Linked DNA regions of Homo sapiens. The protein of the gene in region 2 interacts with the protein of the main gene of each other region in a pairwise test. Each region holds a gene or a part of one and is shown on either strand. Other genes may lie near its edges.

What was found. Proteins that work in one complex are often made in the same cells at the same time.
Region 1: the proteins of PAX2 (region 2) and KLK9 interact in a two-hybrid assay, tested with the Homo sapiens proteins (one large-scale study listed by BioGRID and IntAct).

Annotation. Positions count from the first base shown.
Region 1 is NC_000019.10:51,006,106-51,011,282, reverse strand, and holds the start of KLK9 (kallikrein-9 precursor), read left to right. Parts: upstream 1-1,690; 5' UTR 1,691-1,735; coding exon 1,736-1,778; intron 1,779-1,943; coding exon 1,944-2,100; intron 2,101-4,559; coding exon 4,560-4,825; intron 4,826-5,177.
Region 2 is NC_000010.11:100,804,241-100,808,840, forward strand, and holds part of PAX2 (paired box protein Pax-2), read left to right. Parts: intron 1-2,189; coding exon 2,190-2,365; intron 2,366-4,600. UniProt on the Homo sapiens protein: Transcription factor that may have a role in kidney cell differentiation. Has a critical role in the development of the urogenital tract, the eyes, and the CNS.

The sequences.
Region 1 (5,177 bases), on a different chromosome or scaffold from region 2:
GAGGCAGGCGGATCACGAAGTCAAGAGTTGGAGACCAGACTGGCCAACATGGTGAAACCCCGTCTCTACTAAAAGTACAGAAATTAGCCAGGTGTCTTGGCGCACGCCTTTAGTCCCAGCTACTTGGGAGGTCGAGGCAGGAGAATTGCTTGAACCCAGGAGGCAGAGGTTGCAGTGAGCTGAGATCGCGCCACTGTACTTCAGCCTGGGTGTCAGAGCAATACTCCGTTTTGGAAAACAAACAAACAAACAAACAAACAAAAAACAGATGGAGCAACTGAGAGAGGTCTTGTGACTTGCCCAAAGTCACACACCTCATCACTAATCACACCTAATCATTGAGATTTGGACACACATGGTTCAGTTCCAGAGTCCATGCTCCAAACCATGACGACACAGTGAGAGAACATTCAAGGGGAGCCCAGACCCAGCTTCATAACCAGGCCTGTGAGCAGGAGAAAGTGGAAGGGATCGTAAGTGCCCAGGGGAGGCAAAGATGGACTCTGCCTGAGGATCTCAGAGATTTCCTGGAGGAGGGAGAATTGAGGTTGGGTGTTGAAGGATGAGTGGGAGTTCACCAGGAAAAGAAGGATATGGAGAAAGACATTCACTCATTCAATGAACATCTCCTGAGGACTTCTGCAAGCCCTGTTCCGCCTGGAACGGGGTGATGCTGGGACACAGAGATGAGTCAGACCTGGGCCCAGCCCTCCAGAAGCTGTCCACCTGGTGAGAAGGAATGATGAGGAGAGAGGCAGGGAGGATGGGGTGATGGAAGGGACAATGGGGTGGGGGGCAGGGAGATGGATGAAAAAAATATATAGCAAATGTTCTCAGGATTTGGCAAAGATCAGGATGTATTAAGAGAGAGCACAGGGCACTTGCTACCTGGAAGGTTGGGCACCTGGGTCCTTGGGTGGTGGAGCCGTGGGGAAGGGGGCAGGTTATGACAAGAGTGGGTTAATCCAGATGGAACCAGATTTCTCAACATTCTAGGAGAGGGCCTTGTCCTTGTGGGAAGAGGCCCAAATCCCCAGGGCAGGGAAGGTTCTGCAAGGTGTGTAAACCTGTGCAGCTGCCTGTGGTCTCTGCCTCACTCCACCTGGATTTCCCTCAATCTTTCCCGTGTTCTGTCTCCTCCTCCCACTCCTCCTCTCATCTTGGGTCCTTCTGTGCCTGTACCTCCCTCTCTTTGTATCTTTTGCTCTTGTGTCTGAGTCCTGACTCTGTCTTCCACCCCTCGCCTCCTTTCTGGGTGGTCCCCCTGCACATCCCTCCAGCCTGCCGTGGGAGGTTGGTCTCTGCACACCACTGCTTTATCCAAAATAAACCTGCTGCACCCCAGGACCTTAGGCTTCAAGGATCTCCCTCCTTTTCCAGGACACAAAAGATTCTGTATCTTGTAGCCTAAGGTGATGAGGAATGAGGTCTCCCACTCTGAAGACCCCAGAGGAGGTGCCCACAACCTCTCCACACCCCCAGCACTCCTCCTCCATTCAGTCAAGCTCTGGCCCAGCAAGCCGCCAGTTCATCCCAAAAGGGGGGTCCCCCTGCACTTACCTCCTCTCCCAAGGCCCCTGTCACAGCCCCAGGGCTTCCCCCTCCCCCAGGTACATTTCCCAACCCCGATTAATCACAGGGGCGGCCCCATGGAGGAGGAAGGAGATGGCATGGCTTACCATAAAGAAGCACTGGACGCCGGGTGCACGTTCCAGGATCCAGGTGCCCAGGGGTCATGAAGCTGGGACTCCTCTGTGCTCTGCTCTCTCTGCTGGCAGGTGAGGCTCCCAGGCTGGCTGCCCCTTCACGGCTGTACTAAGGTCACCTTGCTCTTCCCTCCCATCCCAGGCTTCTGCCTCCTGCCCTCTAGGCTTCTCAGCATCCTCTCCCTGCCCTCCCAGCCTGCTCTTCGCTGACCCCTTTGTCCCTCATCCCCACCCCAGGGCATGGCTGGGCAGACACCCGTGCCATCGGGGCCGAGGAATGTCGCCCCAACTCCCAGCCTTGGCAGGCCGGCCTCTTCCACCTTACTCGGCTCTTCTGTGGGGCGACCCTCATCAGTGACCGCTGGCTGCTCACAGCTGCCCACTGCCGCAAGCCGTGAGTGACCCAGGCTGGCCATGCTGGGGAGGGACAGAGGCTGGGGGTCAGGAGAGGGTGAGGGGTGCTTTAGGCCAGAAGTGCGGAGCCTCCACTTCTGATACCACAAGTTCAACTCTTAGAAGTAGGAAGGGTAGCCTCCCAAATCCTAAAATTCTAGAGACCAGCAATATCTCATTTGAGAAGTCTAAGATTCGAAACTTAGGCTCTTCGAATCCGAGACTGACCCAGAGAAATCCAGAATCGTAGAATCCTAAAATCTTGAATTTATGAAATTCTGCAATAGCCTCAGCAAATTTTAGAATCATAGATTCGCAGACTATTAGAATCTTAGCAGTCTGGGTCAGCACTGCCCAGAGGAATTATGATGCCAGCCACATGTGTAAGTTTAAATTTCTGGTGGACACATTTAAAAAATAAGGAATGAGTAAAATTAATTCTAATAGATTTAACTTGACATACCCAAAAACTTATTTTGACATGTAATCAATTTTTAAATACGTATGAACGATACAGTTTACTTTTGTTTTGGTACTAAGCCTTTGAAATCTGTTCTGTATTTTACACACATAGCCTGTTACAAAATGGACTAGCCACATTTCAAGTGTTCAATAGCCATAATGGCTAGTGTGATCCTAGAATCTTAAATTCAGAGCTTTCTAGATTCATTGAATATTGAAACTCACAGTACTAGAATCTTTGATTCACAGTATCCTAGAATATTGAGATTCAGATAATTCTGTAGTCTTAAACTATTTGAATCCCAGACTCTTAAATTTCTAAGGTTATAGATTTATAGAATGATGACATTCTAGTCTTTCTTTTTTTTTTTTTTTTTTTTTTTTGAGACAGAGTCTCCCTCTATCTCCCAGGCTGGAGTGCAGTGGCACAATCTCAGCTCACTGCAACCTCTGCCTCTCGGGTTCAAGCAATTCTCCTGCCTCAGCCTCCTGAGTAGCTGGGATTACAGGTATGCACCACCATGCCAGGCTATTTTTTTTTTTTTTTTTTTTTTAGTAGAGACGGGGGTTTCACCATATTGGCCAGGCTGGTCTTGAACTCCTGACCTTGTGATCTGCCCGCCTCGGCCTCCCAAAGTGCTGGGATTACAGGCGTGAGCCACCGCGCCCAGCCAAAATTCTAGTCTTTTTGTCCTAGAACATTAAAATTCTATGTTCAAATCTTAGATTTAATTCAGATAATGTTAGAATCCTGGAGTTTTTTTGATCCAGGGGAATCTGGAATGTTAGAATCTTGGATTCATAAAACTCTAAACCTTGAGCCTCTAGATTCTAGAATCATGGATAATAGTGTGTCGGAATCTGAGAATTCTAGAATCTTAGGTTCTGGGCATTCTAATAGTATCCTGGAATCCACCTGATGCAGGAATCCTCTCTCCATTGCCTCTGAAAAGTGACCATCCATACTGTTCCAATTTTCTTCCCTCCATGAGTAAAGCACTGATTGTGGTAAGAGATGCTGTGTGGGAATTTCCCATCATGCATTGCTCCATGATGGAACCTCCTTTAACTTAAGCCTATACATCAGACTGGGAGAACGATGTTCAGATTTCAGCCGAAAGTGAAGCAGGAGAAATGCAGAGATATGAAGGTGGAAGAGAGTGAGAGGCAGGGGAAGGGTAGGGGGATGAAGGGATGTAGGGGTGAGGACTACTTTTCCAGATCCAGAGCCAAGACAGCAAGAATGACAGAGAGAGACAGACACAGATGTTTCTGGTTCCCCAACCCTGAATTCGCAGTCATTAGCCTGCTGCCTAATGTCAGAGGTCAGAGGCTGGGGAATGGACTTGTCATCCCCGAAAGGATCCCAGCTGTCTAGGGCATGGACCAGAAATGAAACAAGTGCGCTGAGACTGTGGTGAGGGCTTAAGGTTAGACACCAGGAAGACATGCATTGAAGGGTGAAGGATATGATAGACAGGAAAAGCTGAGGCCAGAGATGACCCCCAATTTGGGGATTTTCCATATCCCATCCCCTTTCATACACACGCACACGTATACACACACACCACTTAGACATACAGAGCCGCTCCCACAGAAGCCACCAGACCTGTGGGGGCAGGGGTGGGGCGGTTGTTATGTGGTAGGTGGGGTCCCCCGTGCCCACACCGTTCCTAGGGACCCAAGTCACCACCAAGGCTCCAGGTGAGTAGGGAGGAAGGTGGCTCACTCAGCCTGGGACTAGGAGCGGGGGCTTTGTGGGGAGAGCTACAAAGATGGAGACACACAAAACATCAGAGTGGGGACCAGGGACCCAGAGGAGGTGTGTGCCTCGCTTAAAATCACAGTACCCTGGGCCAGACATAGATGATGAGGGTGCAGAGAGGGTGTGTGGCTTGCAGAGGGTCACACAGCACCCTGATGGACAGGAAAAGAGGGCTGGGGCTGAAAGGACTTTTACCTTTCCCCCAGCTTGACCTCTGAGGCCTGTCCCAGCAGGTATCTGTGGGTCCGCCTTGGAGAGCACCACCTCTGGAAATGGGAGGGTCCGGAGCAGCTGTTCCGGGTTACGGACTTCTTCCCCCACCCTGGCTTCAACAAGGACCTCAGCGCCAATGACCACAATGATGACATCATGCTGATCCGCCTGCCCAGGCAGGCACGTCTGAGTCCTGCTGTGCAGCCCCTCAACCTCAGCCAGACCTGTGTCTCCCCAGGCATGCAGTGTCTCATCTCAGGCTGGGGGGCCGTGTCCAGCCCCAAGGGTATGACCTGGCCCAGAACTCTCTCTGAAACTTGCTCCCTCACCCCTCTGTCTCTGCCTTTTCATCTCTGTCTTCTCCTTTTCTCTCTCCTCTCTCTCTCTGTCAGTCTATCTATCTGCCAATCGATATATTTAACCAAATATAAGATGCTAGCATTTTTAAGATGTGCCATTATTTCATGAACTGCGAAGAAGTGGAAGAAGGAGGAGGAGGAGAAGAAAAAAAGGAGGAGGAGGAAAGATCCCATTAGATCCCATTGATTATATAACACCATTTTCTGGAAGACACATTCTAATTTCAGAGTGTTTGTTTGTTTGTTTGTTTGTTTGTTTTTGAGACAGGGTCTCGCTTT
Region 2 (4,600 bases):
GACCTGAGGACAAAGCTTCAGTTCAGCCCCTACACACACACACACACACACACACAGACACAGTGAGCCAAGCCACACACAGACAGGCATATACACAAATCTACACAGAGGCATGAGGAGAGTCCTGCCACACATGCACACACATAATGTGTGAACACACGCTCACAAATACACCCTCTCTGCCCCTACAATAACCATATATGAAGATATTTGATGCTTTCCTCAGCCCTGAGAGTCCGGCTTCCCCAAAAGGTAGGAGGGCTCCAGGAAGGGAGAATCAAACACAATAGGACACGCAAATAGCTACAGGGAGTGAAATGAGGATGATGGCACATCCTGAAAAAAGAAGTAGGCACAGGAGAAACGGGGCATGTGGCCTCACAGTCCTCATGCAATCACACACAGACACACACATTCTTTCAGGAAGCTTCTCATTCTATTTCCACACACGCAGACCCTTGTTTATCTGGACGTTTATATATGTACAAGCGCGTAGACACGCAATACTCACACAAAAGGGAAAAATAAATTTACCACACTTCAACTTTCAACTCATATGTTGATGCATACATCCCGTAAGACTGAAATGATTCCAGAGCCTTATGCAGAAGAAACCACAACCACCAAGTTTTGTGTTCATGGGAACAAATACCATTGAAGCTGCTTCTGTCTGTCTTCTTCAGATGTGGTCCTGGTCTTGATCTCTGTCTCTCTCTCCCTCTCTTTCTCTCTCTCCTTCTCTCTCTCTCTCTCTCTCCTTCTCTCTCTCTCTCTCTCTCACATACACACACACACACACACACACACACACACACACACACACACACACACACACTTTCTTTGCTTTCCCACCCCCTCCAGAATAGATATGGAGGGAAGATGGGAGGTCACATTAGGAAAGCAAACCCCATGCTCGGTCTGGGAGGCCAGCAAGGGAGGATGGCTGCAGGTTGAGTTAATCAATATGTAATATTTTCTATGGTCTCCTGAATGATACTGTATGGTGTTACTGTATATAATGCAATATTGATTATATCATATCGTATAATCACCTATAAACTGATATATATAACATTCCCAGAGGAACACCCTGGGGCCTCCGGCATGGGCTGGCCCCAGGCCCAAGGCTCCTCAGCTGGTCTTGGGCTGAGGGAAGCCTGGAGTGACCAAGCTGGTATGGGGTTTGGGGGGGAAACCCCACTTTGGGGGGCTGCAAGGTGTGGGTTCAGAGAGAGGCCACAGAGCAGGCACATTGCCTACTGTACACCTTGAAAACTCCAAGGAACCGACGCTGGGAGGCAAGGATAGGGGAGGGCTGAGAACGCCTGAGGAAAGGGGACATGGAGACAGGATTGGCCTGTAGACTCAGGGGAGCAGGCACCGGTGTGATAAGACTCTGCTCCCTCTGGAGACTTGCAGGAGGAACCAGGTGACCAAGAAACTGGCTCCTGTAGGAGGCTTGAGCCTGGGTCTAGGTTGGAGACAGAGGCCGAGAAGGCGGCCAGGGCATAGAGGCATCCACAGGGGCCCTTCTGTGGGCTCTGCCCAAGCGGGAGCTTTGCTGCTCTAGCGACACCTCTTTCCTCCCGCTTGGTTTCCCTCTGGCCTCAGTCCTGGCCCAACCCAAGCAGAGTGCCTCAGCTCTGCCTCAGAGCCCCTCCTCCCTCAGGGCGAAGTTGATTACTTCACCCAGTCTCCAGGTTACACTCGGCCTCGGAAATTTGATGGTTTTCAACCCTTGGAATTAGTGGAACTGAAATTCATCTCGGAGCCGAGTTCAATTCTCCACAGGCTCAGTAATGCCAGTCTGAGACACCCAGCTTCTTTCTTCCCCAGGCTGGCCCTGGCTTGGGGGCAGGGGGTGGTTCAGGGAGACATGCCCCAGGGAGCTGGCTCCTGGGAGCCCCCTGGCTCCACCTCTGCCTAATCCTTCCTGACCCCACAGTGTGACCGCTCCATCTCTTACCAGGTCCTCAGGTCCTTCTCTTCCTTGGGCTTCCTCAGCCAGATCTCTGAGGCAGGGCCACCCTCTGGTGTCAGCCCCACTGGCCCAGGGGCTGAGAGTAAGGGGTCCCATAGGGGTGCAGAGCTCCTGGGCCCGGAACCAGATGCCCACCTCTTTGCCCTGCACTGTTCCTGTGCCTCTGCTGGCCTGGCGCTAACGCCCCGAGTGTCCATGTGTTCTCCAGATGTGTCTGAGGGCTCAGTCCCCAATGGAGATTCCCAGAGTGGTGTGGACAGTTTGCGGAAGCACTTGCGAGCTGACACCTTCACCCAGCAGCAGCTGGAAGCTTTGGATCGGGTCTTTGAGCGTCCTTCCTACCCTGACGTCTTCCAGGCATCAGAGCACATCAAATCAGAACAGGTGAGGAGGGAGCTTTCTGCTTGCAGAAGTAGAAAGGAGCCGGCAGAGCAAGGCCTCTCAAAAACTTGTTCACTAAACACCACATGCATAGCCAGCATTGTATGTGTTACACACGTGTGTTCTGTGTGTGTGCAGTGTGAACAGGCTCACATGAGACAGTATGGTATCGTTAAGACAAATCATTATGGTCTGTATATGGTAATTAGAAATGAGTTCTGGGTGCAAGAGTATGGCCTTGGGTAAATCATCTCTGTTCAGAGCCTCGGTTTCCCCATCTATAGAATGAAGGGCTTGGATGTAGGGTTTGTCAAGTCCCTTCTAGCTCCGCTTTTCTGTGGTTCTTGCATGGAGTACTCAGGAACATCCTCTTGCTGTGTCCCTTGCCCACACCCCCTCAGGGTCCTACAGAAAGTCTACGCTAGACTGGGGAGCTCTCCTTGCCCAGTGTCAGGAGAGCCTGCCTGTGCCTGCCTCCTGCTCCCCAAGCCAGCAATTCAATGGAACCCTAGGTAGGCTGGCAGCTTCCCACTTACACCCAACACTTTCTGCAGACACTGAGCAGCCCAGGACACATAGCATGGGGCACAGCATGTAACACACCAGCAAAACGCACAACGCAGAAACCATCTCCGAACTTTTCTATGTGCTGGTGTGCATGTGCTCACACTCCACCATCCACCTGCTCCCCTCACCCACAGCCCATGGTACTGTGCTCACACACCACTGTCCACCTGCTCCCCCACCCACAGCCCACGGTACTGTGCTCACACACCACCGCCCACCTGCTCCCTCACCCACAGCCCACGGTACTGTGCTCACACACCACCGCCCACCTGTTCCCTCACCCACAGCCCACGGTACTGTGCTCACACACCACTGTCCACCTGCTCCCCCGACCACAGCCCACGGTACTGTGCTCACACACCACCGCCCACCTGCTCCCTCACCCACAGCCCACGGTACTCACAGCTAGCCCCGGCAGCCGCATGGAGCCAGTGGGTGTGTGCTGCCCCCAGATCACCAGCTCAGCATACCCCTAGCATATGCCTCCACCCACATACGCTGGGTGGAGCCCCCAGCACACCCGCTCCCACACAGGGGCACACTCCCATCCCTGCTACACATGCAGCCCAGGCCAGGCCCACAGTCACAGCACAAGACAGCATTGCTGTGCTTGCATGCATGCACACACGCACCCACACATGCACGTCAGTGCAGCCCCACAGCGTTGAACGCTGTAGTTCCACTCTTAAGACTCCAACAGCTCCCAGCCACTCGCCTTTCTCCCCGCCCGTCCTTTTATCCCATAAGCTGTTTGTCTTCATAAAACAAAAATCAAAAGTCTTTTTAAGGTGCCCTGAGCCATAAACCAACAAAGGAGGAGCTGGCCGAGGCGGGCGGCTCAGTGCACCCTCCCTGAGTCCCCGCCTGTATTACAATGAATAACCTTTATTTACTTTCATTAGACTATTAAACACCAGCACAGTCATTTTTCCCCCTGAAACTCGGAGCAGGGCCCATAAAGCAAATCCGAAGCCTAATTGAGTTCATTTTAATTTCTCTCCGATCACAGCGAATTACTCTGGTGATAAATCAGGGGGCAGCTTCACCCCCAGTAGAAGGCCTAATTTGCAGCTAATTACAAAACTGATTTCTACAGGAAGATCAATACGAGAAGGAATTGGAAATGACGAGGCAATCCCGTCCAGCCATGGAGGGGAGGGGGTACTCTAGGGGGGCCAGGAAGCGGAAGGGAAAAAAACAGACCCGAAAGAGCAGGAAATCAGTTTTAATTTAACGTAATATTAATCAGAGCAACTTTTCCTGCTTTGTGCAGGCTCCCGGTCTGCCCAGCTCTGGGGTCTGGCTTGGCCGTGGCTGCAATAAAAAGGCAATTACCCGAGTGTTTCAGGCAGGACACCCTTTCAGAGTCAATGACTGGCCCCCTCCTACCCTTCTGTTAGCCATGTGGACTCTCCCCCTCCCCAATTTCATACCCCAGTGCACAGGCAGACAGCGAGGGGCCCATGGGGCTGTCATTGTTTGTTTTTAAAAAAGGGGCGCCCATACCCGATCAGCCAGCAGTGCCAGGCTGAAGGCCCCACTAGGCCCTTCTCCCAGCTACTGGCTCTGCCAGTCATGTCATGGTTCCCCCTCCTCCCCAAGGCTCCTCGACATCCCATGCCTCTCAACAAGGGTATCCCCACTACTACACCCTACCCGCAGGGGTGCTTA